2 linked regions of the Homo sapiens genome follow. The protein of the gene in region 1 interacts with the protein of each later gene in a pairwise test. Each region holds a gene or a part of one and is shown in the gene's direction. Other genes may lie near its edges. The genes, in order: SP4 and FOXP2.

What was found.
Region 2: the proteins of SP4 (region 1) and FOXP2 interact in a two-hybrid assay, tested with the Homo sapiens proteins (2 studies listed by BioGRID).

What each region holds. Positions count from the first base shown.
Region 1 is NC_000007.14:21,503,218-21,519,209, forward strand, and holds the end of SP4 (transcription factor Sp4), read left to right. Parts: intron 1-7,804; coding exon 7,805-8,052; 3' UTR 8,053-11,605; downstream 11,606-15,992. UniProt on the Homo sapiens protein: Binds to GT and GC boxes promoters elements. Probable transcriptional activator.
Region 2 is NC_000007.14:114,623,700-114,639,691, forward strand, and holds part of FOXP2 (forkhead box protein P2), read left to right. Parts: intron 1-4,840; coding exon 4,841-4,978; intron 4,979-5,892; coding exon of another isoform or gene 5,893-5,943; intron 5,944-6,105; coding exon 6,106-6,306; intron 6,307-7,828; coding exon 7,829-8,006; intron 8,007-15,992. UniProt on the Homo sapiens protein: Transcriptional repressor that may play a role in the specification and differentiation of lung epithelium. May also play a role in developing neural, gastrointestinal and cardiovascular tissues.

The sequences.
Region 1 (15,992 bases):
GGGTGGAGTATATGGCCACTATATAATTTCTTTAAAAATTGATCCTTGGTTTCCATAGCCGGAAGATCTGTAGCTCTGCGCAAATATAGGAGCCCATATAATGACTCGTAGAGGGGCAATCCCAAGTCTTTTATTGGTGCTTGTTCTAATCTAAGGAATGCTATTGGGGGACATTTGGTTCAAGGCATTTTAGTTTTTAAGATTAGTTTGGTGATATGCTTTGTGAGAGTTTGAGTCATTCTTTCTACTTTCCAGAGGAAGGGAGATGCCAAGGGGTGAGATAATCCCATTTAATTTGTAAACCTTCCATAATTCACCTTAACACCCTTGAGGTAAAGTGGCTTCCATTGTCTGAATTAATATTTTCCATCAGTCCAAAGCTAGGTGAATCTGTTTTAATATTATTTTGACCACATTCCCAGCAGTGGCTGTTGGAAGGGGAAAGGCTTCTACCCAGCCTGAAAGGTAATCTACCATCACCAGTAAATACTTTAGTCTTCCTACTTTGGGCATTTCTGTGAAATCTACTTGAATGCTTTGAAGTGGTCTTACTCCGGAGGTCTTCCTGTTTTCTAATCACCTTTTTGTTTATCTTTTGACAAGTTAACACAATTTCCACATGCTTGTTTAGCAAGGGTATAAATCCCTATACACCCATAATTCCTAAGTATTGTATCACACAAAGCCTGGGGTCCCCATTGACTCCATTTGTGTAATGTAGATACTAGTTTTCTCATTAGGGGTTTACTTATTTCAGGAAGTACCCATTTGCCATCTTCAGTCTGAGTGACCCCTGTCCTGTCTAATTCTTCCTCCTCCTCTCTGGTAAACTGGGGCCTTAATACTAGCTTAGGGATGTTTGGGAGCAGGCTACATAGTCTAATTTCTTCGTCCAGGGAGGCTTGCTTAGCAGCTTCATCTGCAAGCCTGTTTCCTGTAGCTTCTATAGTGTTCCCTTTCTGATGACCATTTACATGAACTATGGCTACCTCTGCTGGAAGGAGGAGGCTTTCTAAAACCTGTTTGACCAGTTCCCCAGGTACCAATTATTTTCCCCTGCTATTTATTAGACCCTGCTCTGTCCAGATTTTTTCAAAAGTGTGTTCCAACCCATTAAGCATATTTAGAATCAGTATATATAGTGCCTTCTTTGGCTTTAAGGAGCTTTATGGCCGGGTTAAGACCATATAATTTACAGATTTGGGCTGACCAGCCATTAGGTAATCTACCTTTCTCACATAGGGAGTGTTTATCTCCATCAGTGACAGCATTGCCATCTCTCGTTCGTCACAACTCATCCACAAAGAGCCTTATCCCATCATGTAGTGGAGCTTCCCTAAGGTTTGGTCCTACTTTGGTTTGTTATTCTATGATATCTAAGCAGTTCTGGTCTGATGTCTTTGATCTCCTCTCCTTTCCATAGGAAACTGGCTGCATTTAGGCAAATATTTGTTGTTACAAGCAAATAATTTTTTTTCTTAATAATATGGCTTCATATTTTATGAAGAACGTGTTCAAACTATCTCCCGGCTTTTGGTTTAATATATTCCTGACCTGGTGTGGAGCGCTTACTATTAGGGCCCCAACAAAGGTTAGCTTTCTACTCTCCTACCAGCAGGGCTGTGGCAGCACTGCTTGCACGTATTTGGGCCACCCCTGAGAGACAGGATCGAGAAGCTTGGAGGCAAAAGCAACAGATTCCCTCTTCCCTCCCCAGGTTTGAGTGAGCACCCCAAGGGTGATCCACTGTTACCAACAGATGGAATGGTTTCTCTAAAGATGAGAGGACCAGGACCGGGGCTGTAATGAGGGCCCGCTTTAGCTCTTTTACCACCTGAATTTCCTTTGAGGACAATTGCAAGGGATTGGGTTCTTCTTTTAGTAACTTGATATATAGAGTCTTTGTCTTTTGATCATATGAGTCAATCCATAACCTATAGTAGCCAGTTAAATCTAAAAATTTTTGGAGTTCTCTTTTTGTCTTAGGCAAAGGCAGACCCACTATTCCCAGTATTCTCTCTGGGTTTATTCTTCACATCCCTTCACTAATCAGGTGTCCTAAATATTTAACTTCTTTTTCTGCAAACTGCAGTTTGTTCTTAGATACTCGCAATCCCCTTTCTCCTAGGAAATTAAGCTTGTGGTGGTTTCTGATACCTCGGTCCTCCTCTCCCCAGAAATTAAAAGATTATCTATGTATTGTAACAACTGGGTTCCCCTGGAAGGTTGAAATTCCTCCAGGACTTTTTCTAAGATTTGACCAAATACGTTTGGGGCTTCTGTGAAACCTTGTGGCAGCACAGTCCAGGGGTACTGTTGTTTTCTCCTAGTTATAGCATCTTCCCATTCAAAGGCAAAGAGGTTCCCTAATCCTAAAGTCTAGGGGACATGCCCAGAATGCATCATTTGGATCCACCACATTGAACCACTTACGTTCATAGGGTATCTTACTAAAGAGGGTGTAGTGTTTAGTCACCACAGGGTGGTAGGTCTGGACAGTTTGATTTATAGCCCTTAGATCTTGTAGCAATCTATACAACCCATCAGGCTCTTTGGGAGAATTGGAGTATTGTAACATGCAGGGTTTTAATTGTCCATCGTTAATCAATCCCTCTATTACCAGTTGGAGACCTTTTCTCCCTTCAGTGGAAATGGGATATTGTTCTCTGCAAACTACTTCTGGTTGTTTTAGGTTAATCTGTAAGGGTGTGATTTTTAACCCTCTGTTGCCTTCCCTAACCCTCACAAGGGGATTTAATTTTTCTTTCCTCCTCCTCTGTCAGGAGGCCCATCATTACTTTTATTTGTCCTTCCTCTATTCCTAATCCTAAACCCAATCTCACAATCAGGTCTCGACACAGGAGGTTAGTTCCTACTTCAGGAACAAGTGACGCCTCAATTTGTTTTGCTCCTGATGTAATTAAAATTTTCTTAAATATTGGAACCTGAAATCCCTCCCCTTTTACCCCTGATACTTTCAATTTTTCCTTAGAGAGTTCTGTAGCCCTTGGTTGGTGAATTAGGGAGGAGTGAGCTGCCCCAGTATCAACCAAAAATGTCACTTCTCCCTCAGGTCCCACCTTCAAATTTATTAAGGGTTCCTGGTGGGATCTACTCAGAAGGTGCTCCTGCCCCCGACTAGTCTTCATCAATAGTCATGAGGGGTATCACCTTTTCTTTTTTCCATTTAGGACATCCTCTCTTCAAATGCCCTGTCTTTCCACACTTGTAACATCCACTCATAGTCTTAGGACCTTTTCCCTGCATTTCCCTTCTTTCTTTGTGTTGAAATCTATAATTCCCTTGTCTCCTAAGTGGGGGATCTTGATGTAAGTCTTTTCTGACTACCTCTTCCACAGTGGAAACCATGATTTTTGCTTTTTGTTTCTGCTTCTCTTCCTTTCTCCTTACAAAGACCCTCTGAGTTTGCCTCAGTAAATCCTCAGTTGGTTTCTCTTTCCATCCATCAATCTTTTGTAATTTTTTGGTAATGTCAGGCCAGCTCTTAATTACAAAGTTAACCTTCAAAAGGCATTGCCCTACTGGGTCCTCTAGATCTAATCCGGAGCATTTTCTCATCTGATCTCTGAGCCTATATAGGAATGCAGAAGGAGTTTCCTCTTTTTCTTGTTGAATCGTGAATGTGTCCTATGTCCTACGAGTGGACTCCTTGATCCCTTTAATTATTAGTTCCTGGAGATCCTACATTTGGGCGCAGTCCCTGGGATCATTATTATCCCATTCAGGATTAACATTTGGAAATTTTTGTTTGGCTGGTGAGACTTCTTGCCTGGGAGGGTGTTGCCTCTCCCAGATGGTCATGTCCACTCTCCTGATCATTCCCCTTTCTCTTCCTATGAATAGGATATTCTTGATGGACATCATTTCAGCCCAGGTGTAAGAGCTGTATCCTAGGAATTGGTCCAGATGGTCTGCTAAACCGAGTGGATCTTCTAGGAGTGGTTTCATTTTTTTCCTGAAATTCCTAATTTCAATACTTGCAAGAGGAGCATTTACAAAGCCAGTCTCTCCCTGTCCCATGGGAACTCCCCTAAGAGGGAACATGCTAGGTGCCTGCTGTGTGGAAGGAATAGGGAAGTTCTCAATATCCCTCTTACAGTGTTCTTTTCTTAAATTTGGATAAGGATTTAGAGGAGCAGTTGGTTTGGCTCCGCCATGGTGTCCAGGTCTTTCCTCCTCTAACCCTCCTGCTGCCCCTTGATTTTCCTGTCCCCTATTTTGTGAGATGTATGGAGGGGCATGGATGATAGGGTCCCAGGGCTTTTCCCTGGGTGAGGGATTTTTACTAGGCTCTTTTTCTTCTTCTTTAAGTGGGAATATGGGGCTAATTCCTTGATCCAGCAGAGAGCATAACCTGTCTCTTGTGAGGTTGGGGTTTTATTATTCACATAGAGAATTAAAGCTTGGCACACCTAATTTTTATCTGAGCCAAACTTAGGCCATAGGACTATGCTGGTAAATGTCAGAGGGAGTCTCTTTGGCTCCCTCTTTCCCTTGTCCCCTAGGCCTAGAATTTCTGTTTCCCATTTTTGGTCAGTCTGTGTCTGAGCTTTTCCCTGTGTTCTCAGCACCCCCTACTGGAGGTTTCTTGCACACCCATGGAATCACTTCATCCATTCTCTGGCCATTCTTTGTCCATTCTCCTCACGGGAGAACGGAACCATGGATTGGGACTCTGCACTTGCTTCATATCTAGGGTACATCTCAGTCACACACACTCAACCTCTGAAAATGCCCAACCACCAAGACAGTACTTACAGTCCAATTTTCCTCCCTTGGCTTCTGCACGAGGTTGCCTGGTTGCTGCAGTGCCTGCTTTTCTCCCTGTGTCGCCTCTGCTGCCTCCTGAATAACAGTCTCAGGTTTGTCTGTGGCTTCTGTGGGGAGCCAGGATGCCCGGACAGAGTGGGCCACCCAAATCGGGTGGGACACCTCTGCCCTCTCGGCTGGAGTCCCACTCCATGCAGGCACAGAGATCCCAGACAGGCCCCCAGGTTTGTGAGAAACACAGATTCACCTGTCCAAACCCAAAGAATGGACTTGGAGACACAAACAATGGAAGCGAGACTTTTAATGGTGGTCTTGCAAGATGGAGTGTCTGGTAGGCAGGCACACCCGGGGCAGTTACAGCAGGTAATTTATTTCCTAGCATCCAAATCTCACTGCAACCTCCACCCCGCCTGGTTCAAGCGATTCTCCTGCCTCAGCCTCCCAAGTAGCTGGGATTACAGGCGTGCATCACCACGCCCAGCTACTTTTTTTGTATTTTTAGTAGAGACAGGGTTTCACCATGTTGGCCAGGCTGGTCTCAAACTCCTGACCTCAGGGTCCACCCACCTCAGCCTCCTAAAGTGCTGGGATTACAGGTGTGAGCCACCGCGCCCAGCCTAAATACAGTTTGTTTGTTTTTTTAAGTAGGCCACTGCCTCCACCTTTGTACAGAGAAATCCCAGGTTCCTCCTGTCAGAACCTAGCTAGACCCTGGAATAAGATACCAAGACCAGGCTTGCCAACTGTGGCTTGGCATAGAGTTTGTGTTTGACCTGGGGTCAGGGCCTTGTCTACACACTTTTTTTTTTTTTTTTTTTTTTTGAGACAAGGCCGTGCTCTGTCATCCAGGCTAGAGTGCAGTGGCTCACTGTAGCCTCAACATTTGCATTACATGTTGATTTATATAATTAATGGATGGTGTTGCTTATTATCGATTGATTGTGAATCTGGCCACGACAAATTTATTCTAATTGTTTATTTTCTCAGATTATTTATGTAAATAGTAATAACTGTAAATAATAATCTATTTCAATTTTTTTCTTCCAGTGATTGTACCTCAGTTCATTTTACTGTCTTATATGTTGGCTTCGTCAGAATGTTTCATATTATGTTGAAAATAGTAATGATATATATAATAGCATTCTTATCTTGTTCCTGATGTATAAAGTAATAGTTCAGAAGTTTCTCCATTAATTATATGTAGGGGTATAGCAGGTAAAAGAAATAAATTTTTATTCCTGGTTTGCCAAGAGCTCTTATCAAAATGTGTTAAATTTTATCACACTGTTTTTATGCTTCTGTTGACCTTTTTTTTCTCTCCTTTAACTTTATGGAATCTTAAGTCATACAAAGTATTTTATTTTTGTGTAGTCAGATTTGTCTATTCTCTCTTTTATAGTTTCTAAATAACCTGTTGTACTTTTTAAAGTACCTTCAAACTCTAGGTTATAGAAATATTTTCCTTTTTTTTTAATACTTGGTTTTAAATCTTTGTAGCATGTATCTTGGTGTGTGGTATGACATGGAGGTGCATCTTCTTTGTGTTACTTCAGATGGATGTTTAATACAATATTGTATTGAGTGCAGTGCTCCTGTAAGTTTTAATATTTGTTTGTAACAATAATAAGGAAGACTAATGGTTTTTTCAAAGTTTACTCAAAAGTAAAAGCACACACGTAAAGAAAAAGAGAATGTAAAGAAAAAGAGAGAATATCTGACGTGGACCAACTTGAGCCTATAGATTTTTTTTATTGGTAAGTCAAAAGCAGGGCCAAGAAAAGAAATTATCCAAATTGAATTTTCTCATTATATTAGTCTGTTTTCATGCTGCTGATAAAGACATACCTAGACTGGGCAATTTACAAAAGAAAGAGGTTTAATTGGACTTACAGTTCCACATGGCTGGGGAGGCCTCACAATCATGGTGGAGGGCAAAGAGGAGCAAATCACATCTCGTGTGGATGGTGGCAGGCAAAGAGAGAATAAGGAAGACACAAAAGCAGAAATCCCTGATAAAACTATCGTATCTTGTGAGGCTTATTCTCAAGAACAGTATGGGGAACCCACCCCCATTATTCAGTTATCTCCCACTGGGTCCCTCCCACAACATGTGGGAATTATGGGAGCACAATTCAAGATGAGATTTGGATGAGGACACAGAGCCAAACCCTATCACTTATTACCCAAGTTTTATCAGACTGGGAAAACAACATTTCAGTCCCTTAAGTAACAATTTTAGAGGGAAGATCTACGGCTAACAGTTATTCATTGTGCACATCAGGATAAACCAGTTAACCAAATTTTGATATGCCTCATTTATTATACACAAAAACAAAAAGGCCTTTTTGTTTTTAGTTAACATTAAACTAGCTTTTATTCCAAAACAAAGAAGTCGGTCCAGTAAAACTATCTTATATTTTGAAGAAAACATATTTAAGAATTGCTTTGGACAACAGAAACTGTTATCTTATGAAACCTAAAAACTTTATTAAATTCTGAATGTAGCATGTGCCTGCCTCCCATTTTTGCCTTGTAAAGAACTCAGTATGCTATTAAATTATTAACTTAGTTTATTTGAAATAGTTCCAAGATATTTCATGCCTCCAAGATTAAAACTAAAACCCAGGTTAGCAGTTTTGAAGAAGAGTGGACATGAGCCTTGAACATTATATATATTTGTTACATCTGATAGAGATATTTTAAATTGTCTGCTAAAAACCCTCTTGCTTTGTAGATGGGAAAACTGAGAGTTCCAGTGGCTATTTACTTGCTCCAGCTTTTATTTCCAGTTCATAGCAGAAGCAGGACTTAAACTTCAGGTCTTTTCGTCTCAATCACATGGTCTTTCTCTTTGCATTGTGTATTTGATAACGTTTTTAAATAAAACAAAGCATTTTGCAACTAGTGAAACTGTACAAAAAGTCATATAATGTGACCAGAAGGGAGATTATTAAAAATTATAATTTCACTTAAGCAAAATGTGTATAACGCCATTTACTGTTTTTCTATGTAGGTGAAAAGAGATTTGAATGCCCGGAATGTTCTAAAAGGTTTATGCGGAGTGATCATCTCTCCAAACATGTCAAAACGCACCAGAATAAAAAAGGTGGTGGGACAGCTCTTGCCATTGTTACCTCGGGAGAACTGGACTCATCTGTTACAGAGGTGCTTGGCTCCCCAAGAATTGTCACAGTTGCAGCCATTTCTCAAGATTCGAATCCAGCAACTCCCAATGTTTCAACCAACATGGAAGAATTCTGAAAAGTTATTTATAACAGAGACCTCTAGTGCTGCACTTGTTTACACACCTTTGAAAATCTGGAAATGGGCTGGTCAAGTGGATTACAGAGTAGGAAATTATGTTTTCATTCTTGGCTTCTTTAAGTATTCCAGGGTTTGGGGTCAACACGTGAAGTGTTGAATTTTAAAAAATACAAAAAGCAGACTGATGTACTGGAAACAGAAAAGTATTTCCTCCATACTATAAGTTGTAGTTGTTTGGAAATATATCACATAACCTTTATACAGAATCTTCCCATCTCTTAATATCATGTGTTAACATGTTTAAAAAGACCTTAGTAGTTTGCAGGCTGGACCTTAATTGGACTTATTTTCTTTGAAAGTACTTTGTTATAAATTCAGTCAGTAATAATTTACGTGTATTCTTTTTCTCTATAGCACAGAAAACAGATAGTTAACTGATGATAGGGATAATACTGTATTTCCTTAGCTTGATTTTTGGAAAATCAACCGAAAATAGTTTGGCCGTCTTTTCTAAATGTTAGAAATTCTTCAACAGTTGAATTAGGTAAGTTCCAAAACAGTAATCTGAGATGCATCTCAGATCTTTATTACCACTACATTATAGTAGTGTGTATGCAGACAATCAGTGAAGTCCAATTACTTTCTCCATTTGGAGACACAAGAGGAACATAGAGTTAAATCTTAGGTTAAATTTTAGGTTGACACCTTAGGAAAATGCTGGGAAAAAAATGGTTAAAACAAAACTCATCATAGCTTCAGAAAAATAAAATGAGGCATCTTAACATGCAATGTTCTAAAGTTAGGATTGATTATATTCCTAACCCTAGGTTGAACCACAAAATTTCATTTAAAATGTTTATATTTGGAAATATTTGCATAGAGTGTAAATTGTTCTGTAGTTTCATATTTTGTAAATATGAGTTATGTTGACAATGTGCAGAATTCTTTATGCTTTGATGTGGTAGCCAAAGAAAGAATTACACTTTTTTCCAAGGCCAGCAGAAAATTCTCTTTTAACTACATTGTAATTCTTGTTTTCCTCTACTAAAAATTGGCCAGTCCCATTTTATTTCTAGTGCTATGTAAGAAGGTAATTAGGAATTATAACACAGTAATGTTTTTATGTTACATCAATAACTGAATTTTCCCTAAAAATTAGCCTAATATATAATAGATATATTATGAAGCAAAACTTTTATTTTTGAAAAGGCAGAATAATTTTCAGTGAAGTAAGTGACTAAAGAAAAAAACTATATTATTGTTTATGCAAGGGTCTTACAGGAAAGGGTCTTTTTTTTTTTTTTTTTGAGATGGAGTCTCGCTCTCTTGCCCAGGCTGGAGTGCAATGGCACGATCTCAGCTTACTGCAACCGCCGCCTCCCAGGTTCAAGCGATTCTCCTGTCTTAGCCTCCTGAGTAGCTGGGATTAACAGGCGCCTGCCACCATGCCTGGCTAATTTTTGTATTTTTAGTAGAGACAGGGTTTCGCCATGTTGGCCAGGCTGGTTTCAAACTCCTGACCTCAGGTGATCTGCCCACCTCGGCCTCCCAGAGTGCTGGGATTACAGGCATGAGCCACCATGCCCGGCTAGGAAAGGGTCTTACTAGGAAAGATGGCCAAAAGTTTCATATGAAAAAAATTGGATTATAAACCAGTAACTTAAATATTAATAAGGATATTTTATGTTTTAAAAAAGTATTTACACAGAATCATAATCAGTGAAATTGACCATTTGAAAACTAAAAGTTTTTACCTACCTGCTCAATTTATTAACATCATTGCTTTGGGGACTGTTTGAATATAGGTACGTGTTTTCTTGTGCATTCTCTATAATTTCAGGAAAAGTACTAATGCGAATTCTCTTCCAAAATTGTGATGTTTCTTGTATTTTTGATGAAGGAGAAATACTGTAATGATCACTGTTTACACTATGTACACTTTAGGCCAGCCCTTTGTAGCGTTATATAAAACTGAAGGTCTTTTGTGCTTTCAGTTTGTATAAAAAAGCTTTGAGATTAAAGGAAAAAAAAAATTTTTACACTGTGGTTATAAATTTCAAGTTTCTTAAAGCTTTTGTAGACTTGTAACAGAGTCTTTAAATTTAAGTTGGATTTTGTAAATTGTTTTGTATATTTTATTTAATGTACTCTTAACAACTGATGTATCTGGCTTTAAAACATCAGAATTGGTTTGTTGTTTTGTTTGGTACAGAGGAGCATTTGGTAGTGTTCATTTTAATTTTATTATATAGGAGCTGAAACATCAAATATATATTTTATCTATCATTATGCTACACAATCAGTGCTATAAATTTTTTTATGCAAAGAAACTTTCTTAATGTTTTAATCATGTTTCCTCAGAGTGACACTTTTTGTTGTTGTTAATACCAAGTATGAACACTCTGCATCATTATTCCATGAACCAGTTCTAATGCAAACCTATGTATGTCCATTAGAAATGGAAGTTATTTTTTAATCAACAATGAGGCCTATTATAAATTTATCAGATGAATCTAGATAGCTTTATAGCATATAAAATATGTTAATTTGTGTTAGCAGGTGCACATTTCACCACTGAAATTAGAAATATTTTGACAGTCTGTTCTGCATACCATTCTGAGTCTACTTTTCTGTCTTTAGAAGAATCGTAAATTTCAGTGTCCTTTATTTGACTCAGTGGGATATAGCTGTTATAAGTAATAGGGCACAGATGTGCAGTAGAGTCTTGTTTAATGGCATTTCACTGTTCATTCCCTTTACCACCGTTATAAAACTTTTCTTTATTGTAATTATCAGTGCAAAGCTATGTATTTATCATGGTAAAACTCCAGTGTTAGAATAGTTTTTTCTTACAGTATACTTTCTTTGGTTAGGTTTGTGTATGTGTTGCTGATTACATTAGAACTTGATGTTAAGTCATTTATCACACTCTCATGAGAGCAGTAATAAAAGTGTGTAATCTAGGAGAAAAAGTTAATTTGTCAAACTTAGATAAGCATGATGTTTAGGTCCTATTTTTCAATTTTATAACTGTTTTATTGCAACAATATTTGTATTTAAGTCTCCATTTTAATGCCTTGTGGTGTTTTTTTATGCATGTCACTAAGTTGTCATCCCACATAAATTGATGTGCAGCATAGGGTATTAAATCTACATAATGATTTTAAAACAGAAATAGTTGATGGTAAAATGTAAATGTTTTGCAAAAATTCCTTATAAAAAGTTTTGTAGTAACATTTCACTTGTAAATTTTTTTTGTAAAAAAAAAAAAATGAAAAAAAAAGATGAATCCAGAAAAAAACCTGTTTCCCATATTCTAGAATTTAGACAATTATTCTGCCAGCAAAGCCTCTGGGGCTGTAATTGACATTTTTACAGTGCTGATTTGTATAAAATTTGTTTTTTGTGGATTTGGAAATAAAATCATGTACAAGTTGTTGCCTGCAATAACAATTGCAAGTAACCTATTAAAAATTCCCTTGAGTTTAACATGTTTCATTTAATTATGTATACTATAAAGCAGCAATAAATTATTTGAACTATCAACCTACTTATCATGAACACTGGAGAGTTAAATGCTTCTCACTGGAGAACACATTGGCCACCGTTCGTAATTCCTCGTATTGAGATCTGGTCACCATTTCTCTGAACATACCGCCAAAGAACTCCAATTCAAATTGCATGTTAATTTGTAGCCATTGCTCTAGACATTTATGGAAATTAAAATTTGATTTAGAGACACTTTTTACTTAAATATTTTAAGCAATCAATGTTAGGAAATTATAGGAAGACCTGAAAACGAAAAACATAATTAAAATATTATTTAAGCTCACAGAATCACTGAGAAGCAATATAGGCCACATAGATGCCACAAAGACTACAAGCAGAAACTGTCTTCCTCCTGGGAGAGCCCTGCAAATCTCATGAAGACCTTTAGTAACATAATGAATACATTATTGTAACAACTTCAGCTAACACATTTCCAGACTCACACCAGATATAGACATAGCAAAGCGAGGGTTTGGCCCAGGGTGGCGGAGGTAGGATGTTAGGCAGCAAGAGAAGTACGCTGGCCCACTGACAGAAGACTCCAAAGACTCTAGGTTTTAGGTAGTAAGCAGGGGCTACAAGGTGTTTGGACAGAGAACCTTGTACAGCAAGGTCCTAAAGGCATAGTTGTGTTACAACTTTGTAAAATAATGTGTTCATAACACTGACTGAATCAAAGAATTTATGCTACTCTGTCAAATAAGACAGTAAGGAATTGTCAAAGGATGTTTTCTATCCAAAGTAAAGATACACTTCAATTACCTGAAAAATTCGCATTAGAAAGCATCAGGATGATATCGTATAAAAGGGGATAATGCAGGCCAGGCGAGGTGGCTCACGCCTGTAACCCCGGAGCTTTGGGAGGCTGAGGTGGGTGGATCACGAGGTCAGGAGTTCAAGACCAGCCTGGCCAACATGGTGAAACCCCATCTCTACTAAAAATACAAAAATTAGCCGGGCGTGGTGGCGTGCGCCTGTAGTCCCAGCTACTCGGGAGGCTGAGGCAGAATTGCTTGAACCCAGGAGGTGGAGTTTGCAGTGAGCTGAGATCACGCCACTGCACTCCAGCCTCGGCAACAGAGCGAGTCTCTTGTCTCAAAAAAAAGGATAATGCAATTAGAAAATGTCATTGTGTTTTTCAATTTTTAATATAGTTTGCTTCTTGTACTTCTAGAAATTTCAGCCACATGAAAAAGACAATAATAAAGAAAAAGGGATAAATCACCTTGAAAATTGACAAAAGCTGTTGGTGTAGTAAGTTAGGAAAGCTGAAGCAGTGCTAAAAGCAATACTAATAGGGTGTGGTTTACAATGCCATTGGTAATGACAACTTGAAAATAGAAAAATATACAGTATTGTTTATTTTTTAATTAAAAGTTCAGATGCTTAATTTCAGGGGTGCAGAGACTTCAAGTGTCACAGCAAACTTGAAATACTTTATTCCTTTGTGAAACTGAATAATATATTGCTATATTTACTGCCTGAACAGTAATGTCTGCTTAATATACACACAACCAACTTGTAATTCGGTAGCAGGACTTTTAAGGCATGTATTTTCCATTCTTTTAAGATTGGCTGATTAGCATAAACCTTGGGCTCTGTTCCTCTTAGTAACAGGTGGCAATGAAATAATTTATTTTTGGATACCTGAGAGTAATGTCAAGCAGAAATAGTGGAAGGAAGGAAGAGAGAAAGGAAAGGAAAAGGAGCATAAAGGCCTATTTATAATGCAGTGGGTTGATCTCCCTGGTTAATAGCTAAGCACCGTGCCAAAAGAGATCAACGGAGAGTCTGAGGATTTCAGGCTGGATTCCTGGTTCAGCCACTTAGTAGGCACACAACCGTGGGCAAGTTATTGAACTTTTAAGCACTTATTTTTTTCTACTTCATAGAATAAAAGAGCAATGCTTATTAATGTTAAGCATTATGAATAATACATAGGTCTGTTAAGATCAAACAAGAAAACTATATTGAGTAACACATAGTTGTGTTTAATACGTTATTATTGTTAATTATAAGTTAACCCAAAAGGCAGACGGGTGTCTTAGTCCATTCGGGCTGCTATAACAAGATAAACTAGACTAGGTAGCTTATAAACAACAGAAATTTATTTCTCACTTCGGAGCTAGGAAGTCCAAGGTCAAGATTCTGGCAGATTCAGTGTTCATTTACTGGTTCATAGATGGTGACTTCTAGCTGTGTCTTCACATGGTGAAAGGGACAAGACAACTTTCTGGGGCCTCTTTTGTAATGACGCTAATCCCATTCATGAGAGCTCTACTGTCATGATCTAATCATTTTTCAAAGGTTCCACCTCTTAATATCACTGGTAATATTATTGGTAATTGGGTTTCAACATGAATTTTTGGGGGGCACAACTGCTCAGACCATAGCAGGGGGCATGGAATAGTTCCCACCTGGACCAATGCTGAAATGTCTTGAAAATGGGCAACAATACATCAAAAAGTTAATTCTCAAATCCCATTTTAAAAATGAAATTTCAGTGGGAATTTCCAAATTCAAACATATTTTTCTCAAACTGTGAGCTACTTTGCCATACTCTACCTCAAAATTTTATGACAGTCTTTTTCCAATTCTAAGAAAAATAAAAGGTTTAAATCTTAGTTACTTTCTTCCCCCCCCCCCCTTGAGCCAAGGTCTCACTCTGTCACCCAGGCACACACCACCATGCCCAGCTGGTCCTGGGCTCAAGCGATCCGCCTGCCTCCACCTCCCAAAGTGCTGGAATTACGAGCATGAGCCACTGCGCCTGGCCTAATTCCTAATTTTTAAATGTTAATTACAATTACTGTTTGCCTACCTCAAAGTGATAACAGACAAGCACACCGGTGAACAAGAAGCAAACCAATTACTGAAAAACAGAAACAGCTGCTCATGTGTTGTTCACTAACTTTTGTGGGTTTATGTGTGGATGATTTTCTATATTTAAAAGCATTCTCTATATTTAGAAATATATGTGTTAAATAAACCCAGGCATACAGGGCAAATGTACCCCTCTTTTCAGCTACCTACCAAATTGCAGCCAAAAAAAGAAAACATGGAATGTGGAGTTCAAAAGTTTCTTAGACAACTTCCTCTCAGACTTGGTTCAGAAAAGGATAATAGGATGCTCTACTTTTACTTTGCTTTTTAGATTCTTTGTGAAATAAGATAGGATATAGAATAAATGTCTAAACTTATAATGCCCTGCAAGGCTGAGGCATCTCTGCTGGCTGTAGCTTCAGTTGTCCAGTTACAGCCTTCTTGCCCATTTAACTCTTACCTTTGCTTCAGATCCTGTTCTTAACTCTGAGTTGCTCTGCTCATTCCCAAGCTTACCTTTGTTGGAGATGCTTTTTCCAATTAATACATTTATGGAGCACTTACTGTGTGTCAGATTCAGGCACAAGGGATGCTGTTTTTCTTTTCTATGCTAACTCTGCCTTCTTGCATCCCAACCTCAGCTGGATTTCTGGAGCTCCTTGAGATCCATTTACCCTATGCCTAGGAATGGGCAGGCCAGCAGTTGCAGAGATACTGGAGTCTATTGAGACCATATCTACGGGGAGGAGCCGAGGCTCAGGTAATCTGAAGCAAGTTAACAGGTTTCAAGTCAGGGTCAGAGACTTAAGAAATCAGATGTGGGTGTTAAGATCAGACAAAAGCAAATTATAGGGAACAGGAGAAAATTAAACGAGCAGTTGTCATAAACGCCAGTTTGTCTTTGAATCATGTCTTTCTAGGTGGTTGGCTTGGTTCAAATTTTGTTATTTATTATCCTGCTATGAATTGTGGTTTCATAAATATTTTATTTATAGTAGTAGTATTTTTTAGATGTTTAGATGTGGAAACATAATAACGTTATATTTTCTGCTGGTAAAATTGTTCCTTGCTTGTATAATGTTATGCTGGAATTAAATACATCAGTAAATCATGGTGCTGTGTGAAGGGCATTATGGCTTCCAAGTATTTGGTCACCTTAACAAGTCTGAAAATCACTGTTGAGGAAAATAATCTAATGGCAAAGAATAAGCTAACTGAAAAAAGATTCCAACCCAATTCAGTAATACTGTAAACAGTTACCACTTTAATGTATTTTATGTTTTTGCAGCCCTTTACATTAGCTTATTCTTTGTCAGGTTCATATATGTACACATGAAATGTATGTGTGTACATGTTAGGTGGAGCATCATATATGTTTATAGTTTATAAGGCAGAATTAAATTTATGTTACTATGGTTTGGCATTATAGTTGCTTATTCTCTGTCCTTAATTATGTGGACAGACATAAAATTGTTAGAAAATTAAGCCCTATTCTGATTATCACTTACAACCTTGTTTAAATTTTCTTTTCTTTTCTTTTTTCTTTTTTTTTTTTTTTTTTTTTG
Region 2 (15,992 bases), about 93 Mb from region 1:
ACACTACTTCCCAAAACAGGAAACACTTTGCTTTATCAAGGTAACTAAATGAATACTAAAACTTGTGTCTTAAAGTAATAGTAGAAATTAAGTGATGAATCATGATTAAAGGGAATCTCTGTGTCTGTTATTGCACTGTGCTATATTATTTCTGTTGTTCCTGTCACACTATTTCCCTGCTGCTAAAAGATTGCGTTAAATAGCAATATGCACTGTCCATCCCAGATCTCTTTAAATACTCCTGTTCAGTACTTGATGAAAAGCTTACAAATACCACTCAATTCATTGTCAGTTCTTTTTAATACCATAAAACCAGGAAGCTTTTGAAAGGCTATTATTATGATAGACATTACACATGTAACCAAGGCTTGAATTTTTACCAAAGCTGGCATTCCAATGCAATAAATAGTTTCTTATGTTAAAATAAACTGTAAATAAAGATATTTCAGAGGATAGAAGCAAACAGAAGAAATGTATCAAGAATGTACAATAAAATATTTTCTATTAACAGTCAAAATCAGAGCAGATACTGTAACATAAGAACAAATTTTGCTTTTATTACACAAGTAGTTAATTGTCATAGTTACATTTTTCAAGTACCAAGAAGGCAAAAGAGTCAGGACTTCCTTTGTCTTCAAATTTTAAACAAAGAATAAAAAGATCTGTGAACCACTAGTTGGCAGACCGTGTTAACAAGAAAATAATGTTTTATACTGTAAATGTCATCTATAGATTGTGACTGCTATTTCCAATTCACATTTAGTGAAGAAAGAATTGGACTGACACTATACTAAGAACCTTTCCAATCTCCCACACATAATTGGGATGTTTAATTAAGGGACGCACTTAATATGCAAGCCCAGCACATTCAGAAATGCTCCAACTGAACTGGACTGTGAAAAGACTGTGCTTATGTAAAACAAAAATTTTGGTTTGTTTTCATAACTCTTACAATAACTCTTTAGATGCATTTGAACAGAGATATGATCTTTGCATTGTCTCGTAATAACTTTTTTGACCTCCTCAATGACATATACTTTAAATTTTAATATAAACACATTTATAATATATATGTTTTTATGATTTACATATGATTTTAGGATGACAATGATGTGATGGTTATATTTATGTCATAACTAAATATAATTATATTTAATATCACTTATTAATAATAGGTGATATTAATTGTAATACACTTACCTATTCTAGGATAATACCTAAATTTTTTTTTTTACTTTTACCACTGACTCTTTGCAAGACAGTTTCAGAATTTTCCCTCTCTCATTTTAGAATGCATAAACCTATCTTTATATTCAGTTAAGTAATACTTCTTGGTGCACAGAGCAGCATGTCGGGTTTGTGCTTAATTCATGTAATGAGATAATAAATAAGGGTAAATGGAGACCCTTGTTTGGTGCATCACTAAGGAGAATTTTAAATCTGTCAGCAAAGTAAATACCAAGAGAGAAAAAAATCTCCCAACCAAAGATGACTCTATTTCCTTCCTTCACACTTGAAAATTTTAACTGATAAATACCCATTCAAAACGAGCTATTTCTTCTGATTTCATTTGGTGGTAGAGCCACCAGACTTTTATTTGCCTTCTCACCAGAAGTAAGTTCTCCCTCCTCTTCTATGTCACACGTCTAAATTGTGATCCCTTATTAGAATATTTGCATGAATCAAATTACATATCTAGCGAAAAATAGTTCCGTTAGTCTAACACCGAACTTGCTAAGGTATATGTATTTCAAAAAAATTGTCCATAAATTTTTAAAAGGCTGATACTGATTTCGTCTATTTAAATATTGGTAAGTAGTATAATCTCTACATTTTTATATGTATACAATTAATCTTTATTCATTTTTATCAATGAATACCTAGAGTAGCTTGTGGTAGCAAGTAAATGAAATGGGACAGTAACAAGAAACGATGAGGGAGGAGAAGAGGAAATGTGTCGCTTAAAATGAGTCACTTAAAAATGAAGGCTATGCATTTCTCAAATTGCAAGTGGACGGGTCTGCAATATTACTGACCTTTGTTGTAGAAAAAACTAGTTTTTTGTTTATTAAATAACTTAGATTTTTAGTAATCTCCTTAGTTTGGGTGAGCTTATATATGTGGATTTAGAGATGATAGTATTACTTTATTTGTAGTGTTAGAAAACCCTCAGAAGTGTACCTGTGTTTTTCTACCTATATAATTAATTTTAATTTATGTCTTTTGTACACATAGAAGTAGAGTGTTCAATCATGTATGTGTTAATTGGCTCATCTTTCTATTTATTTTTATATCTGTATATTGTCAGTTTTAGATGACAGTTTCCTAGAAGGTAGGCCAGAATCTGATTAAAATTTTAAAAAATCACATACATGTGACCATTTAAAACATATGATCTTAAGAAGAGAATGATTTCATGGTTATATTTATGTCATAACTATTAATTGAAAGGCACTCAAACCATTTTAGGAGTAAAAATAATCATCTAACTTGTGTAGTGTAAGGACTAGTATACCCTAAAGAATATGAAGATAGAAAACTTGCTTAAATTTGCTCATTTATCAAATCGATCACAATAGCAACAAACTCTACAGTCATATTATATGTATAAGCTGAAATCTGACTGTAAACTCGTAGTGGTTTACGGCATACCTCCATTCATAGAACTTTCCCCATAAAGTTCACTTATCATTATACATAAAGTATTTGTACTTGTAGGTATAGGAATAATTAAGGGATAATTAAAACGCTATATACTGAAAAAATAAGGAGCGGTTATGTAAGAAAAGTGCGACAAGCTTCTTATCTATGATTAACTTTATAGAAGGCATATCTCTCTCTCTCTCTCTCTCTGTCTCTCTCTCTATATATATCCATGTACATGTCTATAAACTCTATATCATCTATCTATCTATCTAGATTGACAGCCTTTTTAGTTTAATATGTCTATCTTTCTCTGTCCATTTCAGTTTGATTCCTATTTGGAAATAGTATGAGGTAAATGATTGTTCGAAGAAAAGACATTTTTGTAGATTGATACATTTTTTTTCTCACTACTTGTTCTAACCATTCTATTTGTTTATCAGAGAACAAGGAGTTAAGTAAATTGACAGTCAATTTTATAAAACAACTAAACACTTGAAAAACCCATTGGTGAATTAATTTTACAATATACATTTCAGAATGCTTTTTATTATAATAAATTCAAATTCAGTAATTTATAGGTATGCCAGTATATTCCTTAAAAATACAGAAATATTTTTTAAAATCACTGAATTTCTGTCATAATGTTTCAAGTTACTCAATTTGATCTAATTAATCTGAATATGTTAACATGGAGAAAAGAAAAGACATTGCTATTTTTCAGTATTAAATATGAAAGGTTTTGATTTATTTAGTTCTTTATTTCTTTTTGGAGGAAGAATTAATCCACCCTGGATTTCTTTTTTTTTTTTCTTCTGCTTCTTCTAACCTCTTTTCATTATTAATTTCTCCTTTCTCCATAACATAAAGTGCCACACTGGAAAAGTTTGAACTGCATTAAAAATAACAATTAAAATAAGTTGTGAACCGTATCTTTTAATCTTTTTTGGTTTTGAAAGACATGTTGCCCAATAAATTTGTTCTAAAACAGTATTTATATAAATACTTGCTTTTATTTACAGTAAAAGTGAATTGTTTTTTCTAGGAAAGTGATTACTATTTCAAAGGTTGCAAACTTGGAAAGTTGACAAGTTGTTTGATTGCATACTGGTTAGTACAAGTAATGCCTCAAACAGTGTTACTTGCCTTCTATCTGAGCATATACTTTAGGTTTCTATACCAGTTTTTCTGATCACCACTCTTACCATCCTCTTCCTATTTCTTCACATCCGTTCTGTCTTTCTCTAGGGCTTTCCCACTAGCTTGTCCTTTTTCTACGTTTTCCTTACTTCCTTCCTTCTTTCTCCTTTATATCTTTTTCTCCTTCCCTATCTTCTTTTTGCCTCTCATCCTCAGAACCCTGAAGAAAAAGGAAGTAGTGGGAAAAAAGTTTTAAGTAAATTACTTTTATTATTTTCAGTTTAATGAATAACCTTTGAGTAATTGCTAAATTTTTGTACTTCCTATTATAAGCTCAGTTGCTTGAAATAAGAAAAGGTTTAAAGAAGAAGCTAGAATACTAGTTATATGAGTTCTTCTTTCAGAAGACCTATGTATGTCATTATTTTTCTGGATATACACACAGACACACACACACATATATATATATATCTCCTATATGAATTATCACATGTTGTCATATGCTAAATTTTATTACTATATTTATTTTCTAGTACTTTATCATGTGTATATAAAATTTTGAAGATGATGATTATATTTTTAAGTAAGTATACTGTATACATGCTTTTTACTAGTTTAGATAACATTTATATGCATATTTCCAATTTTTTAATCTTTAATATTTATTTTAATTACACTTAAGACATTTCAAAAACCTTTGTATTTATAGCACAGTGACATTGATGAGATGATCAATTATGAAATATTGAGAACACCACCATGTGGTTGTTTATTTTTAACTATAGATATTATAGCCGAAATTCAAATATCTAAGCATGTTAAATAAGAGCTATGGAACATAAAGAGTTTGATGAAATCTGATGCCTCTGGAAAGCTAGTGTCTATGTTTTGTGATACTTTAGTACTATTGTAAAGAAGTTATAGTAAAATGTGACGTAAAAATTATTGATCATCAATGCTAAAGAATTTATAAAAGATAACATACTATTTGTGAAGTTGATTAACAGATATTTGGTTATGACCACGAATTTTCTTTCTCTTTCTCTTTCTGTGCAAGGTGCCTGTGTCAGTGGCCATGATGACTCCCCAGGTGATCACCCCTCAGCAAATGCAGCAGATCCTTCAGCAACAAGTCCTGTCTCCTCAGCAGCTACAAGCCCTTCTCCAACAACAGCAGGCTGTCATGCTGCAGCAGGTAATGTGGGTTACCTGCTTTGGTGTTCTAGCATGACTTAGAAGGTGTGCACTTATTTTGAAAGTGCAGTGGGCATATTTGACAATTCAGTCTCCATTTGAAAGGACAACCTATTAGCGTGCTAGAACATAAATGTAACATTTTAATTATAGAACTCGTAAGAAAATCTAGATTGCTTATTTTTTTAAAAAAATTATTAAAGTCTAGAATAAGAGCAGAGAGAGGTGTAATTTGAAAATGGAATGAGCCAATATTTAAATATTCAAATGCTTAGGTACATTCAATTTGTTGACTTGCCAAAAAAATGCAAAAATACTTACCAGATAATAGTTGCTTTTAAAACTCCTAACACCTTAGCATTCCTTTTAGTTCACAAAAGTATGAAATTTGAATAGACCACTTTGTTAAAATGGAGAAAGTAACATCCCAGATTTTCCTTTTCATAGTATACTCATCGTTTAGAAAGAGAAGAATCTATTTATTATAATGAAATTAGGCAGCTGAGCCACAAATTTATGAAATTTATCTTTTTAAAATAACAAACATAGTGTTCCTAATAAATACCATATCGGAACCCTGAGTGTATATAGACTTTATATTATACACTTACTTATTAGAGAGAAAATAATGTGCTTTACCTGAAATTTTTTATATATAATTACTTTGCTAACTTCTGTGCTGATGACTACAGACCAATTACTTGTAAATCTGACATTGTTCTGAACATCTGATGGATTAAGTTTTTTCCAATAAGAATTGAGCAACCTGATTTTATGTAGCTAAATTTTTATTCTTACAACTGGTAGAGTATAGCCTAGTTTTTATGTGTCAGTAGGACTTCAGATGTAATAATTTAAAGTATTAATTTGGCTCTGACCCTTTAGAATACAGACTTTCTATACCCTTTTGTTTAGGATTTTTTGGATTCTGGATTGGAAAATTTCAGAGCTGCCTTGGAAAAAAATGTATGTAGAGCTGTCTCTTTGAATCCAATGTATATTTTTTGTTGTTTTTATGGGATGAATCTTAATGGATACTCTGCCATATGCCAGTCTAGAAGAGTTTAGGAGATTTATAATACGTGAAACTTTTGCCTTTATTTATTAAAGTCAAAATGGTTTATTCAGCAACAACTACAAGAGTTTTACAAGAAACAGCAAGAGCAGTTACATCTTCAGCTTTTGCAGCAGCAGCAGCAACAGCAGCAGCAGCAACAACAGCAGCAACAACAGCAGCAGCAACAACAACAACAACAGCAGCAACAACAGCAGCAGCAGCAGCAACAGCAGCAGCAGCAGCAACAGCATCCTGGAAAGCAAGCGAAAGAGGTAGGATCCGGTTATCTCATTGATACATAACAGTTTGCAGTTAAGAAGGGGCTTTGAGCGGCAAGAATAGTCTTAGATCTTCCTATAACAAGGCTCTTGCTGTCAAAGTTGCAGTATTATATATTTTTACTGAGCTTAGTAACAGTGATAGGCTCTCAGGCTCTCCTTTTTTGTAGCATGGGACTTGAGAGTTACAATCTAATGCTGCTGTCGTCTAATGTTCACTAATGAATCACAGTACAAAGAGCAAGCTGTGTGGTGGACAAAGTACTGATTATCTTGTATTCATGGAGAATCTAAGTTGGTGAGGGAACCTTATTTTTCTCAGTGGTGCAGCTCAGAGAACATGCATGCAAATTTGGCCTATTGTTGGGGATAGGGAGACTAAGGGAGAAACTGGTTGAGCACAGATTTCAAAGTCACAGGCCCCTGATTAATGAACTGCTACTGTAGGTTGAGAGTGGCGAGTAGAAAGTTACAGTTTGATATGCTCATAAATCAAACTGACAAGCGGGCTTCTCAGGCCTAGCTTGCACTTGTCAGCAAACTGCATCAAATATAAACATAATACAAACAAAACATGTTGAAGTAGTTAAATTGATCAGCAGGTATCAGAGCCGTTGTCTTCAAGCTGCCCATTATGCAAACGTACAGGAAACAGTTTTGACCTCCTGAGGCTTTGTTTCTGTTTGGATTTGTGAATAGAATTTCAGACAGCCATCAACTACAGAATAGAAATTGCTCCCTTATTTCTCCCGAGGCTTTGGGCAATCCACATGACTTGCTCCATTATGCAGTCTGTTTTCCAGTGAGCGCATCAGAAGTTTCTCTTTTCCCCAAACTAAAAAGGAAAGGTCTTCCACAGCAGCTTGTCTTTCTCTGAAGTGTGACTGCCATCTCATACCCTCTGGAGTCCAAAGACCTCTGGTTTGTCTTGTAATGCCTCACAAAATTGGAAGTTATACTTTTTCTTATAATAAGGGCACTTTTTTTTAATTTTGCCTTGAACGTAATTCTGCCTTTAATATATTCCAACAAGAGAGGAGAAGAGAGAGAGAGCTAACAGGCCTATCCTATGAAGGCTACATCCCAGTTTACTAATAGATCACCAGAGACCACATTCATGGACCTCTGCAGATCAAACTTATTCAATTGGAAAAAAAAAAAAAGTGTGTCGTAGAAGTTGACTATTTCTGTAAAGTAGTGTTCTTTTAATCTAGAGAAATGTATTATTATCTACAATAAGTAGATTTTAAAAAGCTGAACCTTTATTACATACTATCTCTAGACCTTGCTCCATACTTTTTTGATGCAAGTTCCTTGGTTCTCTAACACGATTTAATAATTGAAAGAAAGGCAACTGAAAATCTAGAACTTACTCACATTCTGCCCCTGAACTTTGACTATGGGATGACCAAAAAACCCACTCAGGCAATGAAAGGAGTGTGCATTTCCCTGTAAGAGAGCTGTTTGTACAGACCATGTTCTCTGCTGTTTACTGGTTTGGGTTTTCTGATACCAGCAGCAGCAGCAGCAGCAGCAGCAACAGCAATTGGCAGCCCAGCAGCTTGTCTTCCAGCAGCAGCTTCTCCAGATGCAACAACTCCAGCAGCAGCAGCATCTGCTCAGCCTTCAGCGTCAGGGACTCATCTCCATTCCACCTGGCCAGGCAGCACTTCCTGTCCAATCGCTGCCTCAAGGTACATACAAAATGTTGTGCACTCTTCATTTCAAATCTTGTACTTTCTACCATTTCATGGCCTTTCTGCCTTATACCTTGAGAAATTTTGTTTTTATGACTTTCAAATTTATTATTAAAACGTGATTGTTAACATGGTGGCATGACCTATTTTCTAGAGGCTCAGAAATTTTACCATATACTGCTTTCAAGTGTGAAGTAAAACTTTCAAGTTTTTGTTAGATATTAAATGTGTATTTATTAGTCTTATGGGCACAAAATGATTTATAAGGGCAACACAATTCAAGCACTATTGAATATACAGGAGGATCTGCAGGGAATTGGATTACCGGGAAGGCTGACAGCAGTCCATTTAACTAAGTGAGCTGATAGGAGTTTGGTGGACAACTGATAAAAGAAAGATAAAAGTTCCTAATCTTCACACTGAAATCACCACATGTTAAAGAGAGGCTTCATGAATTTCTATAGAGCACATTCCAAGTTAAGCTTTGTAGAACCCCATCCTATGTCACAGGACATATCCATTCTTTTTTCTCTCAAATAACATTGCCTATGCATGTATTGTAAACTATAGTTTTAAAAAATCTGTCAACTGTATTCTTATTTTTCTGTAAGAAAAATTTGGAGGTACTCTGATAATACAATTGTGTGTCATATTCATAACCCTTCACTTTTGGGAAATGGAAAGTTTTAAATTATAAAAGACAAATAATGGTAAACAAATGACTGTGTGCTAAAATTCTCAATTCAGGTAAGTTATATATCATTACACTTCATAAAGGGATATTCTAACTTGCATTTGGATTTTGTTGGGACAAACATTAATCCAAATGTACATTAATTCAAATTAATTATATTTGTCACAGAGGAGTTCATATTGTAGTAGCATTGGCTGCACATTTTGCTGATTCTAAAGGACATACTAAAGAAAATCAGGAGTATCGTGGTAATGTTCTCTCTTTTTATTTATCAAATTAATGTCTCTTTGGCTTTTTTCCCCCTGGTTTTCCTCTCTCACTTGACTTCAAATCTTCTAATTCACCTGATTGAAGCACTCCTAGGAAATCAAAAAAGATAAAGTTTAAATAGCAAAAGAAAAACAAGGCAATAAGCCTGTTTTTCTGAGTTATTCTAAAGAATATTGGAATAAATATTCTAAAGAAAATTGGAATAAATCATAGCGTCATTATATCAATGAATGTTCTATTCACAATTATTCTTCTTTAGAAAAATAAATACAATTTAAAGACATGAAAAAGTAAAAAAGAAAAGAGTTTATAAAATTATTTCAGTGTAAACATGGATTTCTTCAATAGAAACTATACTAAAACAGAAAAAATATTGTTTTTGTTTTCAGTCAAGTTCAAATGAAATCTGTATTTAGGATATAATTATATGAGAATTTCCTCAACAGAAAAGCATGATCTACCACAATCTTATTTTATTAATTCAAGTAAACATTTTAAGAAAGTTTAAAATATGTGCTAATAGAAACACAGTGTAACTTGTTTAAAACATATTGTGAAACCACATTCTTTCAAAACAAGCAAAAAACATCTCTCTGAACAATGAAATTTATAATGATATAATCATTCTAATAGTTTTCAAATAGAAATTACCTGAATTCAAATTAAAATTTATTTTCATAGAATCCTTGTTTCTCTCTTTTCTTCTGTTTTTATCCTTGATAAGATATATGAGAGATAAAATGAGAAAATGGCGAACATTTAGGGAAAGGAAAGTAAATCTGAAAACATCTGTCTTTGAGCAGAAAATTTATATTTTAAAAAGGAAAAAAGATGAAATCACTCAACTATGTTTTCATTAATATAGGTTAAAAAAATCCATCTGAATAATTGTAGGGCCACAAATGTAGTTGGTTCACCGATCAAAGTTTGTGTTGTTGCCATGTAAGCCACACAAACCGGCATCATTGTCTTGTTTTTTACGATTTAGATGATTAAGTGTGAAAAATATCATTGTGGAGGCTCATTGTGTGTTGAATACACCAGCTACAGTAAAGGAACCTAGCGTTACGGTACTATGCTGGAATCCCAAAACTAGAGTGGGGAAAAAGTAAAGAAATATTTGTTGTACAGTGTAAGCCCTGAATCATTTCTTCCTTAGTTAGAGGTTAAGGTAAAAGTATTTTGAATATTTTTATTATCAGTTTCCAGTTCACTTTTTACCAGGTTTTTGATTGGTTGATTAGCCTTGAAAAATAGCCATATAAAAACCAAGTAGGATTAATGTGCAATGATGGATGATGTTCTCATTGTGTCTTTAAAACTGTATCTTTTCTTTTTTTTTTGAGGAGTCTCACTCTGTCACCCACACTAGAGTGCAGTGACGCTAACTTAGTTCACTGCAACCTCCGCCTTCCCGGGTTCAAGCAATTCTCCTCCCTCAGCTTTCCGAGTAGCTGCAATTACAGGTGCCCACCACCACGCCTGGCTAATTTTCATATTATTAGTAGAGACAGGGTTTCACCATGTTGACCAGGCTGGTCTCTAACCCCTGACCTCAAGTGATCCGCCTGCCTCGGCCTCCCAAAGTGCTAGGATTACAGGCATTAGCCACTGTGCTCGACCTAAAACTATGTCATATTTTATTTGTCCCTATAATTTAACACAACTTCTTCATGCTACTTTTAGAGTTACAGCTTCTTAAATTATATTAAAATATATGTATATAACAATGAGAAATAATAAAATTATAAGAATTTTGGTAGAATAGCAGATTTATCTACATTCCTCTCTAAAGTTTTATATTTATCATCTTAGTGTAAATTATTTTAAATATTAATCATTTAAGGTCATCATTAATATTACTATAATATTGGATTTTAGTTAGGCAAGTAAACTTCCATCTCCTAAGTATATGTTTGGTTTGTATACAGACAGATGATAGATATATACATAAGTATAGGTATATAGGTATATACATACATATGTCAAATAGAAAGGATGGATTTATAGTTCCATCTTGAATAATATACTGATTATAAATCTATGTAATATATGAATAACATAGTTTATATATTATCTAGTAATGAAATTTAGTGAAACATTTTAATGAACCAGGATAATTGTCTATTGGTTAGGAAAGATGAAGTTAACTTTAAACATTGATATGTTTGTGACATCCGATAAACGTTTGTGTACTCTAATCCACAATATATTCACACATTTACTATGACTATATGGATAGGAATACATGTGGTGATGATTTTCTGTCACTCCAAGTTTTTACATATTTTTTAATTTATAAAAGTTATTTAGAAGACAAGATTTTCCTTTCCAATTTGAGAGACCAAACAGAGAATGCTAGATTCTAGCCTGGATTCTTCTGAATTAACACATTATAGAACTAGAGATTCTCAGAATAAGAGTGGTTGAATAATAATTAAAAATGAAATATTTGAAATAAAATATAATGTTTTTAGGCTAAGTTAGAATTGTGCCGAAGATAGTCTTTGGGCGCAATATTCAGCCAAAATTAGCTGTTTGGCTTTGGCTTCATTCTATGCTTATGGAAGTCTAAGTAGCCAAATGCCTACTTCTGGCATCCTGGATTTACTGCTTAATCAATGATCTTGTGATTGCATAGATTACTATTGTATGTAATTGTAGCAACAACACTACCAATATGAACAATCCATGTCATGCAAAAATATTACCATGTCAGTATTCCCTTTCAAATATCAAAGTTTTCCATTTGTAACTTGGGGAAAAAATCTTATTTGGTGCTTTATGTGCTAAAATTTCATCACTGAATTGAAGTTTTAATGTACATTTATTATTGCAGGTATAAAACTCTGCCAAGCTACCTGTGAATGCTGTTAATTTTATGTTTAAAAAACTAGTAAATACTTACATATATAGAAAAATATTGAGTATGTTGAGTTAGTTTTTGAAAAAATGTAAAAAGATTGAGATTAAACTGTATCATAACTCTATAATTCTTGTAGAATTATTTTGTGAACTAGAATGTATAACATTAAAATGAATTTAATTCCATTTATCTCTTAAGTCTTTTTTTAAAGTTTTATTTGGCAATTCTTTACATCTTGAGAGGAAGACTCGAAAGCAGTGTGTCAACTTTGCCATATTAAAATATGATGAGAAAAAGGAAACATCATTGGTTTTGTAATAGAATATCCATCAAGCTTTTGAAATGCAACCTATAAAAAATGATAGTACTAATTTTTGTTAATATCAGATGTATTCACATATCCCAGAAGTTCCTTCTTTGGAGAAGATAATTTATCTTTGATCTCAGTTTCAGCTGAATACCTACTTCTGCTAAATTTGGCATTTGGACAAAGCATGTATTTAATTCACCTCTCATTAGACAAGCATTTTAAAGATAGGCATTGTATCTGTAGGTGATAGTAGACCTCTAGTCAAATATAAATCAATAATATGTTGAGTTAGTCAAATTATAAATGAACACCCAGATCTCTGAAGGATACTCCAGAAACTGGGACTCTCTTCTGAAGAAGAGATATGGGTATCCAGAGGTCAAGGCTGGTAGGGAAGTTTACTTTTGTAATATATACCCTTTTCTGTGATTCAATTATTCTGGCCATGTATGTATACCAGTTTTTAAGTTTCACATCTTAAAATACAAAATTTAAGATGAAAACTGAAAAGTACATAGTAATATCTCAGTGATTCAAATTCAAATATTAAATATCAATTTGGCTTAACAGAATATATATAATACAAATGTTTCTACCAAAACTCACTTTTATTACTTTAAATTATAAGTAACCTTAGAAAATAAGTAGCGTATCACTAAATAAGTTAGTTAAAAATTAACAGTATACATACTTTGCATCATAATATATACAATTATTTGTTTAACATTTAAAAATCAATTACTGGACACAGAAAAAGAAATGACATTGAAAAAATCTTTTTTTTTTTTTTTGAGTGTAAAAAAGCTGCCAAGGAGATTTTTTACTAATAAAAATTGCTTTTTACTTATTTTAGTGATAAGTAAAAATCATCTTAGCAGCATTTTCAAAGCTGTGTTGAAACTAGCGTAGACATTTTTAAACTTCGTGTGCCTTAAGGACATATAATCTAGATATGAATTAATTTTAATTAATTCTTAGCACAGTGCTTGTCATCTTGTAGATACTCCACAAACTCTGAATATGGGATTAAGGAATTATTATTAGGCCAAGTACAGTGGATCACACCTATAATCCCAGCAATTTGGGAGGCTGAGGCTGGAGGATCACTTCAGCCCAGGCGTTCAAGACTAGCCTGGGCAACATAGTGAGACCCTATCTTTACAAAAAATAAAATAATTAGCTGAGCATGATGACGTATGCCTGTGGTCGGTCACATCCCAGCTACTTGGGAGGCTCAGGAGGGAAGATCACTTCAGCCCAGGTCAGGGCTATAGTGATCTGTGATCATGCCATTGCACTCCAGCGAGACCATGTCTTAAGAATTATTATTAAGTTGTATTATCTGTGGTATGATAGACAATTTGATTAAGGAATTACCCTTTCATTTACTCAGCTCCTGTGGTAAAAACCTTTTAATATTTGTGGTACTGGCAGTGAATAAGCACAAGCCCAAGTTATCAACCAAAAGTAGAATAGGGATTCCCAATTTTTTGTGGCCACGGAATTTTAAAATTGCATAATTACAAAACTTTTTGGCACTACTAGTATATATATCCTTGAAATAAGAGAAACCGAATAATCTTCACTTAAGATAAAAGTTGTCTATTAATCATAATAGTCTAGTCCACAGATTCCCAGAGTATGTTTGCCAGTACACGAGTGTTCTGGCCAAATTTTAAAACTCTTTCAAGTAACATTCTTTGAGCTTTCTGTGACTGCAGGCACTCTTATAGACACTGGGGATATAGCAGTGAAGAAAACAGACAGAAATCCCTGCCATCATAAAACATACATTTTAGTGTAGAAGGCAGATGATAAATAAGTTAAGTAAAATATATAGTGGTGAGCGCTAAGGAGAGAAATAAAGGCAAGAATAGGAAAAGCCTAAGTAACAATAGGAAAATGGGGTGACCCTCAGAAGGAGTCCTGAGAAAAGGGTTAATGAGTAATGACCTGAAAATGAGAGGAAGCTCTGCGACAGAGTAGCTCTAGAGCAAGGCCTTTTCTTTGCCTTAGTGTCCCCATCTCTAATATAGGGATAATAAGAGCAATAATAATGATAATAATGGTTTGGGGTATTAGATTAGATATCATATGTGAAGCACTTAGAAGAATGTCTGCCATATCAAAAGCACTATGTAAGTATCAGTTAAATAAAACAGAGACAAAGAAAACTCTAAAGAGGACTGAGTTGGGGTTGAGGGAGGGGGCTGTATAAACAGGAGCTTAGTTTTGAACATGGAAAGTTTAAGAAAACGGATAAGGTTACATGGGATTTTCAAATAGAAAGACTGGGAGGGGTATGGGATGGGATCAGTTGGTGACTCCTAAGTTTACACCTGGTATTTAAAACTTACGCAAACTAGTGTAATTATAAAGAGTTTCTTGGGTTTTTCTTGCTCAAATAGAATTGGAAAACGCTGACTTCAAAATGAGATTCAGGTTTTCCTTGTTACTACACATCTCAGAACTATTTTACATGAATAATAAGTCCCCAAGACAGAGACCACAGATCTCTTAGATTAACAGCATTTATAAGACTACTGTTCCATAGAACACTGTTTTGGAAATACTGAACTTGTTATATTACTGCCTCAAGAATAACCTAGATTAATCATTGCAAACCATCAAGCCTTCAAAGCTCATAAAACTTTCAAAATTGTACAAAATCGATTGGCTAGTTGTTTCACATTTCATAAGTAGTTTTGTAAGCATATAAAAGAGCTGAGCAATTTTTAGGTTGAAAGCTTTGTCCCAAGAGCAAGGTAATAGTTTTCTTTTTAAAAATGTCCCCCCAAAATTATCTGTGCATTGGAATCACCTTTGGAGCTTCAAAAACTACTAATGCCTGTGTTTCCCCTCTAAAATTGTGGTTTTATTGGTGTGGGTTGTGGTAAGGCCTTTAGAGATTTTAAAATATGCCCAGGTGATTCTAATATGCAGACATTTGAGGATCCACTGCCGCTAAAAGGAATTTTTTGACTTCTTTTATTCTCTGCCTCTTATCTATTATATAATTTAACACTGTGTCTTCCTGTTTTTAATTAAGAAACATTATTTGGATTATTTGAACAGGCCATTTATTCATCTAATATTTATTGAGGGCCTACTAACTGCCTGACATTTGTTACTTCATTACAATAGCACGGTTATATCACTAATTTTCAGTACAAATGAATAGTATCATAGAAATCTACTTTTAGAAGGCAAGTGGATACTTACATAACTAAATTATTAATAAAATCCAAAAACTGAGTTACCAGTAACATCGTTAGTTGGTATAATCTCTAAAACCATCTAAGAGTCTTAAACTGAGATATAAAATGTTGTTAGCCACTCAATCTATGTTAGAAGCAACTAGTGCCATATATAATTCTTTAGACACTGGTCTTGTATTGTAGCAATATTCATATAGAGTATGCCCTTTAAGAGTCACAAAACTTCCATGTGGGCACCAACATGTCTTCAAGAAATGTATGACTCTATTATAATCAATGGAATCTACAAATATTTATTGAGCACATGCCACGCACTGTTCAAGGCAGTGGAGATACACCAGTAAAACAAGAAATTCCTACTCTTATAAAACTTCAGTTGTATTAGAAGGAGACTGGTGATAACAAGAGGTAGACTAGATAGATAGATAGGTTAAATGGTTTCAGAAACTGTTACATGATTTTAAAAAAAAAGCTGGATGAGGAGTTAAGGAATGCTAGAAGGGAGGGTGGGGAGGGGCAGGGGTTGATAGTATGGTTGGAAACTTAGAGGAGGTGAACTTTGAACCATCTAAGTAAAGGGAGGGAGGAAGCCAAGAACAGGTTGTGGGAACAACCAGAGCAAAGG